3 linked regions of the Homo sapiens genome follow. The protein of the gene in region 2 purifies or fractionates together with the protein of the main gene of each other region. This does not show direct contact. Each region holds a gene or a part of one and is shown on either strand. Other genes may lie near its edges.

The links.
Region 1: the proteins of INTU (region 2) and VPS4A purify together in Homo sapiens (affinity purification with mass spectrometry; one large-scale study listed by BioGRID and IntAct). This does not show direct contact.
Region 3: the proteins of INTU (region 2) and SMC4 purify together in Homo sapiens (affinity purification with mass spectrometry; one large-scale study listed by BioGRID and IntAct). This does not show direct contact.

What each region holds. Positions count from the first base shown.
Region 1 is NC_000016.10:69,324,331-69,327,610, forward strand, and holds the end of VPS4A (vacuolar protein sorting-associated protein 4A), read left to right. Parts: 3' UTR 1-2,609; downstream 2,610-3,280. UniProt on the Homo sapiens protein: Involved in late steps of the endosomal multivesicular bodies (MVB) pathway. Recognizes membrane-associated ESCRT-III assemblies and catalyzes their disassembly, possibly in combination with membrane fission.
Region 2 is NC_000004.12:127,639,457-127,643,191, reverse strand, and holds part of INTU (protein inturned), read right to left. Parts: intron 1-3,735. UniProt on the Homo sapiens protein: Plays a key role in ciliogenesis and embryonic development.
Region 3 is NC_000003.12:160,413,150-160,416,649, reverse strand, and holds part of SMC4 (structural maintenance of chromosomes protein 4), read right to left. Parts: intron 3,178-3,500; coding exon 3,037-3,177; intron 2,284-3,036; coding exon 2,133-2,283; intron 400-2,132; coding exon 235-399; intron 1-234. UniProt on the Homo sapiens protein: Central component of the condensin complex, a complex required for conversion of interphase chromatin into mitotic-like condense chromosomes.

The sequences.
Region 1 (3,280 bases), on a different chromosome or scaffold from region 2:
GGTGAAGGTGGGAGGTTGATTGGGGCAAATCCAGGCACTCCCCATGTCAACAGCCAGACAGGGCTCCAGGGCTTGTCCCAGTCAATACAGAGTTCCCTCTGCTGTCTGGCCGTCTGCCAGGGAGCCAGAAGGAAGGGCCTTGCAGCCACAGAGACACTCCACTGCCCTGGGGCACACAGTGGACACTGCTCTTCCTACTTCCTCCTCTCCTGGATGCTCATCAGCTCCTTCTGCCTCCCCCCCTTTTTTTTCCATCTTTTGTTCCCCTAAATTAATGCTGCTTGGATTTTCATCTTATTTATAAAGATAAAATCACCTGGAAGTGTCAAGGAGTGGGGCGGGGTGGCGGGGGAGAAGCAGCCGTGCTGCCAGGTCACCCAGACCTCCAGACAGCCGGCTAGCCCCACTGCCCGTTCCTTTTACGCCCAAGTTTTGCTCCTTGAGAGCAGATTGGCTGATGCCCCTGCAACCCCAGCCCAAGCTCTGCCTCAAAGACCGAGTGACATAAGCCATTCCCACCCTCCTAGGTTCACATCCAGGGCTGTGTCTTCCTTGGGGGAGGAGATGGTGTCGTTTAGATCAGGGTAAGGCAGTCAGGCGGGTGTTCACCACTGCCTTTTCTTCCTCTGAGCGTGAGAACACTGAACCCAGCCACTGCCCCTGGGTCCCTGTCCTGGAAATGGTCTAATAAATCCTTTTCCCTTCTTGAGCTACCCAAGTGATCTCATCTTTCCTTGACTCTTAACTGAGACTCTGAAGGGCCACCCTTGCTTCCAATTAAAAGACCCTCTGGTTTTCTGTCTCCTCTCTTTTCTAAAGCAGAGCAGGAAACAGAACACTGCAGTTCTTAGGCCTGTTCTCCAGTCAGGTGTGCAAGGCCTCCTCCCCTTAAGGCCTCAGAAGTTTGGCTGGGGATGTTTGTGGGATCCAGACAGTTCTTGCCGTTGTTCGGCCTACAGATCAGAGACTGCAAAGTGGGAGCCCTGCGTACCAGACCCGTCCTGCAGCTGTGTTTGTTTGGTTTGGTCTGCCGCTAACATTTAAAAGTCGAGAGTTGCTGGGCGCGGTGGCTCACGCCTGTAATCCCAGCACTTTGGGCCGCTAACATTTAAAAGTCGAGAGTTGCTGGGCGCGGTGGCTCACGCCTGTAATCCCAGCACTTTGGGAGGCCGACGCGGGCGGATCACAAGGTCAGGAAATCGAGAACATCCTGGCTAACACAGTGAAACCCCGTCTCACTAAAAATAAAAAAATTAGCCGGGCGTGGTGGTGGGCGCCTGCAGTCCCAGCTACTTGGGAGGCTGAGGCAGGAGAATGGCGTGAACCCGGGGGACGGAGCTTGCAGTGAGCCGAGATCGCGCCACTGCACTCCAGCCTGGGCGACAGAGCAAGACTCTGTCTCAAAAAAAAAAAAAAAGTCGAGAGTTGACATAAAAATTCAGAATTCTGACTTCTAGAAGATTAAATTAGGTAATGTTGGGCCTGCGTCCTCATGGGGCAGCCTGTCAGCGGCCACTAAGTAGAGGCTGCTCTGTACAGAAGGGGTCCCCCATCCCCACTCATCTGTGTTGCCTGCCCAGATAGCCCCATGGCCATTTCAGTTTGCGACCCCCAACAGACCAAGGACCCAGAGCTGGCAGCCCTGGACCCACGTCCGGCAGGCAGTGAAGCTGCAGAGGCTGTCCCACGTTTACCCCATGCATATAAACAGACCAAAGTCAAAGCACATTCACACAGAAAGACCTGGCCTAGTAAATGAAGCTTATAGCCTGCAAAGGGCTTTGTTCCAACCTTCCCTCTCCAAAACCCAGTACTGCTCCTCTACCTTTCAAACCTGGTTGGGCCAGAACTGATTACATGGCCAACTCTTGGCTCACACTGGGCTTGCACTGGGCCATTTCTTTGCTCTGGTTCAGAGCCTCTGCAGAAGTGAGCTAACTTTGGATCAGTAGCTCCAACACTTGGCTCCAGTGCTGGCAGGTTACCCCTCAACCATAGCAGCTGGGATCTTTGTGGCTTGGGGGTGCTTGTGTAAGTTCTTGGTTATGTGCCCTCAGCCACCAGGATATGAACCGTGTCTGCAGAGCTTCACTTTAGTGAGCTTACAAGTTTTTAAATTTTTACTTCTAGTTACATTTACTTGAATCAGAACGTTGTTTCCTCATTCCTACTGCTTAAACACCTTGACAAGTCCTAGGGGTTAACAAAGGTTAGCATGGCTATGGTCCATCCCTGTGCTCTAGTTAGAGCGTGAAGACACCTGACTTTCCAGTTGTCTCTCTCCATGACCAGCAACAGGAACCACTGACGCTGAACTTTGGACAGTGGCCTCAGACTCTGGCTGCCAGCACACAACCTGCCATCATCGATGTTAAACATGCTGACATGTGCAGAGGAGTTTCCTCCCTGAAATGCTCTGAAATTCACTTCTCTGCCTGGGGATTCTGTTATAAACCTTCTGCCTACATTGGCTTTCACTGTGGAAGTTGATTTCTAAAACTCTGATGAGCTCACAACGTTGACATGTATATGCGTTTTTTGTGAGTGCTTCCTGCTCAAAGTGGGAGAGATTTTACTGGAAATGCAATAAAGTTTGCATTTTATTGCTACCGATGCCCACCACAAAAGCGTTAACCTCAGAAAGCTATAAGAAGCATCAAAAGATTGCCATAGCCCCCTGTAAGAGCTTCTGAACATTGTCCAAATGAAAGGAGGCTCAGCTGAATTCTAATTTTCCTAAAGACCCATGTTTTTAGCATCTATGAGCTTTCTACAAATCTCCCCATTGGCTGCATCTCTGACCTTGCACCAGTATCTGGTTGGGATTCCCTTTTTTTTTTTTTTTTTTTTTTTTTGAGACAGAGCCTTGGTCTGTCGCCCAGGCTGGAGTACAGTGGCGAGATCTCAGCCCACTGCAACCTCTGCCTCCCAGGTTTGAGCGATTCTCCCGCCTCAGCCTCCCAAGTAGCTGTGATTACAGGCGCCTACCAGCACACCCAGCTAATTTTCATATTTTTAGTAGAAACAGTGTTTCGCCATGTTGGCCAGGCTGGTCTTGAACTCCTGACCTCAGGTGATCTGCCTGCCTTGACCTCCCAAAGTGCTGGGATTACAGGCATGAGCCACCAAGCCTGGCCGGGATTCCTTTTCAAAGTCTGGCTGCACCTAGAGCCAGTTTGCTTCTGCTTGGCCTCATGGGGCCTCAGAGAAAGCCACAAAGGAGGATGGGTCTTTCCTGGGTTCATTTAACTGCCATTTATAACACTTTTTCCTCTAAACA
Region 2 (3,735 bases):
TGGTTACTGCTCACTTTAAACAATTTCACTGAATGATAATTTGCATTAGCAGTTGATTATGCAATTATATCCACACAAGCATGCCATTTGGAAATTGTACATGAAAATCTATTATTTGCATAGAAATTATTTAGGATGGCTGTCAGGTTAAAATGAAAGCTAAAGCCAGCTTTAACAGACTTTTACATAAGTTTTCAAAAAAGAAACATTCACTTCACCATGAACTAAAATCTGTCCTGAAAACAACCCATTTATAATCACAGTTAATATAGTAATGATCACTTTACTGTCTATAATTTCCATAAAACTCCTTTTTATGAAAAATTGTAGTAGAAAAAAAAAAGCACATATTACATAATTCATCGTGATTATAAAAAATATTTTTAACTGGGAAGTATGCCACTGAAAAAAAAAACAAAATTACTGCTATTAAAATGATTGAAATAGCATTAAGGAGCAAAAATACTCATGGTAACAAACCTAAACTCTACCCTGTTCAATGTTATGAACAGTTTACCTTTCAAACTGCTATTCTTTAAAGTGAAACTAGTAATAGTGGAAAAATTAACATGTAGAGAGTCTTTTCAGAAACATGAGCTGTAATATCCCGGCCTGAAAGAGTATAATTTGTGTTGTAATCATTAAATCAGATAGAAGACATTTCTGTTTTCTGCAGTGTTTATTAGCAACTCCAGTTCTCTTAACTTAAAAGTCAAATGTCTCTTTCTAAACACTTTGAAAATTAGCCCCCAAAATATACTATTCTATTACTCAACTCAAACTAACCACTGCCCTGGTCTGTGGCTGGTCATTAATACAGAATTTTCAGCTACATATGAGTCATTTTTAAAAATGCCTAACAAGCTGAAAATATCAAAACTAACATTTCTTTGGGACTTGTTGGTTCCCAGTGTGTGGCATCATCATAGGCACTAAGCCTCACTTATTGCAGATTATCAACCAAATATCACTTATTTCAACAATACCTATCTGTACCCACAGAATCAATATTTAAATAACTATGCAGTTCTACTCTTGAGAGTCTAAATAACTATATCCCCACCATAATCATTTAGTAACAAAGCTACCTTAATTTTAATTGCTACAGTGTAAATACCATGATTGCACATTAATTACTTAAAAACATATGTATCAATTTAAAAAATATATATATATATCAATTTAAACAATGAATAAAGTGTATCAGCCTTATTATCTCACCCTTTTAACCTGGTAAGTTATTTGTATTAGAGATATATAAAAGAAACATCTTTTCCACTTACTAAATATGAAGATGATTCATTTCAATCTCTAAAGTTTGAATGTGAAATCACTTTTGGTTATGATTCAAAGATCCATGCACGTGGTGGCCAAGGGGATAGCATCTTGGCATTCAATTGTGGAGCAACTAAACAGTGCCAGGAACTATGGTAAGTACCAGAATTATAATGACGAGAATGTCAGTTCCCGCCCTTGCTTAGTAAAGAAGAGAAAGTGAGAAAGAATTCATGACAGTACACAGGGTAAGTACAAGATAGAGGCATACAGGAGAGTCACCCAGCTTAGCCATACAGGAAAGTCACCCAGCTTAGCCATACGGGAGAGTCACCCAGCTTAGCCTAGCTGGAGGTTGAGGGGAGATCAGGGAGACCCCAGAAACCAGTTTGAAAGGATAAATGAAGGAGGGAGAGAGGTGGGGAGCTGAAGGGAAAGATGTGAAGAGGATTTCAAACAGGAGTAACAGCATAAGCAAAGACCTGAGGATAGTCCCCATGGCCTAGACGGACAACCACTGGCAGTCTGCAGTTGTCAGAGTAAATGCGGAAGGTGGGGAATGACAGAAGTGGTCAAGCCCTAGTTTTGCCAGGCTTTTTAGATCACCCTAAGGGGTTTGGCTTTTGTAGTGCAGGTAAGAAGGCATCAACAAAGAGTTTTAAGTAGAGAGTTTACGTGTTAGATATCCCTGGATAGGTCTACTTTGGCAAGTAAATCGTTGGTGGATTTGAGGTGGACAAGACTCAAGGCAGGAGGGCTAGTCAGGGGGCTGTTTCAGTAGCTGAAGCAAAAATGACAAATAAAGCAATAGTAGAAGACATGGAAAGTAGGAAAAATATGTGAGAAACTCTTGAAAATCACCAGAACTTTGAGACTGATTAGGTGGGGAGAGAGAGAGAGAGAGGGATTCATGTTGACTAGATTTCTAGCTGGTGACTATACTTTCATGCATCCTTTTGTGAGTACCCATGTGCAGACTCATTGTAATACATGGGAACACAATCTTAATACTTCTCTTACTACCTCTCTCTCACATGAACACTGTTAAAAAATCCATGCTTTATAATCATATAAAAACACATATAGGGTTATTCTGTCACTGTTTTGAAAAAGTGGAATCATTATATATGTACCTATATAAAGTACATATATAATTTCTCACTTAACAATACAGCTTAGAAATCACTAGTGGCTGCATAATATTCAATATCAAGGATGTAGGACATTTGGTCATTCACCTACTGATAAGCTTTGTGTTCAGTTCTTGTTTTTCCACCACAAAGTTATAGGAACCATCAATATACACATGTGTGTTTATGTATATGTATATATATATATATATATATATATATATATATATATATATATATATATGTATCTTTACCCAAAAGACTATACCAATTTATATTTTCACTAGCGATGTGTGGGATCCACTCTCTTAATGTCTAGATTTCTAAATATACATCATTTTAAGAAGAGAAAGACACTTTTTAAAAAGAGGAAGAAACTAAAAGGAAGATAAAGAGGTAGAGACAGGGAAGTGTAAATAAGAGACCCCCACACAGAAGGGCAACTTATACTGAAAAGCAAATGAACTGAGAAATCATGAAGAGCTGAGTTCAAATTTTGTTCTATTATGATTTTAACCTTTCTAAGATTGACTGATTGCTTTAGTTTTCCTCTTCTTGAAAATAGATTATAGCTACCTCACAGGACTCTTGTCAATAGAAAATACAATAATGTTGTTCCTGACATGGTTAAGTTCCAAATAAATATCAGTTCCCTTCCTCTTGCTTTTACTAGATATAACTCTTGTGTTTCTGTATTTTTCTAACTGGCATTAAATGAAGGTGTCTCTAATGATCTCAGTTTGCCAGGTTTCAGGGTAGGTGATAGTGACACAAGAAGCAAAGCGAGGCACTGCCTTTAAGGACCCTACAGGTCAATATTCCTGGAAGGTTCTTTATTTCTACTCCAGAGGAATAGTTCCGAGTTAAGTAAGCATCAAGAGATTGGTCGACGGGTACAAAGTTACAGTTAGATAGGAGAAATAAATTCTGGTGTTCTATTACACAGTAGGGAGACTATAGTTAACAATATTATAGTGTATATTTCAAAATTACTAGAACAGAGGATTTTTGAATGTTCTCATCACAAAGAAATGATAAACATATGAGGTGATAAATAGGCCAAATGCCCTGATTTAATCACTATACAATGTATATGTCTATTGAAACATCACATTATACTCCACAAATATGTGTAATTATTATGTGTCAATTTTTTAAAAAGAGGATAAATGATTAGTGTATTAAGAAATTTTAATAGAATTCTAATGACTGTTGTCCCAAACTAGTTCTTCTAGCCCTATTAGAAGAAAGGGGATGTGTTAACAACAACAACAACAAAAAACCCACAAAAACCTAACCTTTCACTACAACTTCCCTAAATTAAAGAAAT
Region 3 (3,500 bases), on a different chromosome or scaffold from region 2:
TGACATCACACCTTCTGCTACTACTACAAACTCTCATTTAGTAAACTTTTTAAAAAACATGTCAGCAGGAATTAAAAGAATAGTCATCTAAGTCTAGGTTGACTAGTTTTAGGAATGTTGGACATTAAAAGTCCAAACTTACCAGTTCAGGTTTCAGTATTTTTGAAAAAATAATCTTTAAGTTAAAAAAAAAAAAGCCACCAAAATAAACACTGATAAAAAAAAAAAACTTACTTCTTTTTCTTTCTGAAGCCCTTGTGTTTCCTGTTTAAGGCTATCCATAACTTCCTTTAATTTTTTTTCTTCTTTCTCTTTTTCCTTCTCGAGGGCATTGTTTCTGGTTGTTGTTTCATTAATGATATTGTTACTCTTGGCAGGTATACTTTTAAATTCTTCAACCTGAGATTATAAAACAAGTTATAGGAGCATACATCTTTATGTTACCCAATACTATCAATATTTGACATATTTAAAGGCATTTCTCAGGGTCCTCTAGTTCTTCTTTTCTTTATAATCAGAGTTAAATTAGCTAGCTTTAACAAGTATTTTCCCGACTATTCACTGTAATTTCTATATTCTCTCAATCTAATAGTAAAACTACTTCTACAAACACCTGACCTCTTATGAAGGAAAACTGTCTCTGGCAGGGCCTCAGGTCTGTCATCCTTCTCTCCTGATTTCAGGTTGTAATTATTCTTCTTTAGCTATAAATATGCTCTGACTACACGGAATTTTCTAAACTATCCTTCCTGGTATATCATAACTTACCACAAATTATCTTTACCATCTCCCCAACCCTAAAATCTTTCACAACTTTACTCTTCCAGAGTCATCATGTAGGGCTAATATTTTACTCCATTAACATCTTCTGATAATAATCACTTATCCATGCAGTCTATGCCTAAAGGCTAATCACTCTGTAACAGTTACACTTAGCTAAGTCTGTCAAGTCTTTGGGGTTACCCCCAAAGCCTTGTTATTTTGTTTACTCTGATTATCTAGTACCTGTGAAGTTCAACATTTCCCAAAATGCCACTTCCTTAAACACTGACTCAACGTATTTATCAGCTGTGCTAAGCAGAAAGTATTTTGTGAACAAATACATTTAGAAAATGCTTATAGCGTAAAGTAGAGCCTAATCTATAATTATTGTGTAACCATATGGAACAAAGCTTTTTTTTTGCGGGGCTGGGGTTAAGGTATCATATCTGTTTAAATATGACAGAGCTATGAACATGAACACAGCTTAAGAGATTCCAAATTATGAGCTTTCCTATCTCTCTTTAAGACACAGAGTCTCACTTTGTCACCCAGGCTGGATGCAGTGGCTTGATCACTATTCACTGGAATCTTGAACTCAAGGCATCCTGCCGCCTCACTCTCCTGACTAGCTAGGACTTTTAGGCAAGTTCCACTGAGCCTGGCTAATTTTGGATTTTCTGTAGAGATGGGATCTTACTATGTTGCCCAGGCTGGTCTTAAACTCCTGGCATCAAGCAATTCTCCAACTTTGGCCGCCCAAAGCACTGGGAATACAGGTGTAAGCCATTGTGCCTGGCCAACATTGGTAATTCTTGGGAAATCCTGCTCTGATCCTGTTAGCTTAGTTTTTGTAGAAGACAGGCAATATTTTTAAGTCTGTAATACCTAACTTAAATATCTTTAAAAACTACTACTTTAGGAAAAAGAAAATTAAAATTAACACCAAAATGGAACTCCTGATTTGGTAAATGTTTTCCCAATAACATATTATTGTAATATAAACTTTAAAACTCAAAGTCAAGCTAGGAGCAATGGCTCACACCTGTAGTCCACGTTACTTTGGGAGGCTGAGGTAGGTTTCTTAAGCCCAGGAGTTCAAGACTATAATCATACCACTGCACGCTAGCCTGGACAACAGACTGAGACCCCATCTCTGCAAAATTCCAAAACCAAACAAAAAACCTCCTGCAAAATAAAGTCAGTAGAAGCAAGGTTTCCCTTGAGGGGGTAAAATCATGTTCAGAGACAAACCTTAAAACAACATTTAGAATACTAATTCATTCTCTTAGGCAATAAGGGGCAAACACATCCATGAAAACTAGGTATGATATTCAGACGTGAAATTTTAAGAATTTTTTTCTAACACCTACCTTTTCTTTATCTTTTTGAAGTTGTTTCTCCAGTTTTTTGGCTTTACTCGTGGCATGTTTTAACTTTTCTCTAACTTGAACATCTTCCAAATCTAGCTGTGTAAATTTTTCTTTATTCTCCTCAATAAATTTTGTAATTTTATTCAGTTTCCTAGCAAAGCAAGTATATTGTAAGTCATTATTTTGAATGTGCACATATTTTAAAACCACATTTCCTACCTGGAACACTTCCTCTATAAATATGTCCAGGCTCTTAATAAGGCAGGATCCTAAAACTCTCCTTATTCCAAGATGATCCCTCTCCCCATAGTTGAAGAAGCACCTGTATTTTTGATTATGACAGCTATTTTGCCTTTCTAAGTTGGAGGGAAAATAACACATTTTCCAGTGACTACAATGTCTAGGTATATAAAAATTTTACCATAGGAGTAAAATTTTGGTTTTACCTTTTACGAATATACTTACAAGTTACTATACAATAAACTTACTATACAAATTTTTTTATTTAAAAATAATTAGAGATACTAGTGTCATTGAAAAATGGCATCAAGTAGGGACATGATAAAACCCTTAAAAATCTATCTAGAAAAACCCAAATCCTATCCCTCTATCAGATTTGTGGACTACTAAAAGATTAAACTGTGAAGCCAAATGCTTATTGTTTGTTACTGTGCTACGCCACTAGGGGGTAGCATCCCCACGGTTCTAAGACTTCAGAGTAGGGAATTTCATCTGTAACAAGGAACTGGATGCAAGGCAAGTTTTTTTTTTTCACTAAGGGGGCCACCACTTGATATGCTGGCAAATGTCTTACACTCACAATGTGCTAGAAGTAACTTTATATATAAATACACATGTAATACAATTATCTAAATACTTTTAGTACTTCCCAAAATATTATTACTTTTCTGTATCTTTTACATCTTTATTCTTAGCTTTCATTTCATTTGATAGTATATTGCTCTTCTCATTAATTTCTTTGGTATCTTCATGAATTTTTTCCTTTTGAGTTTCCATTTCAGCAATTCGTTTCTGCAACTCATAACTATAGGGAGGAAAAAAAAAAAAAGAAATTGAAGCTCCTAAAATGCCATTTCCAAAACTGTATAACAATTTTAGTAAAACTAACTGTTTCTAAAATATTATTAACTAGTCAATATATGACTGCCTAGGCTATGAGGGGAAAATCCCCCTGGGTCAAGGCTAGAATTTAGGAACAAAAATCGATTTCATTGTACCAATGTGGTGGCCGACGCCTGTAATCCCAGCACTTTAGGAGGCTGAGGCAGGCAGACTGCCTGAACTCAGAAGTTTGAGACCAGCTTGGGCAACATGGCGAAACCCCATCTCTACCAAAAAAAGAAAAAA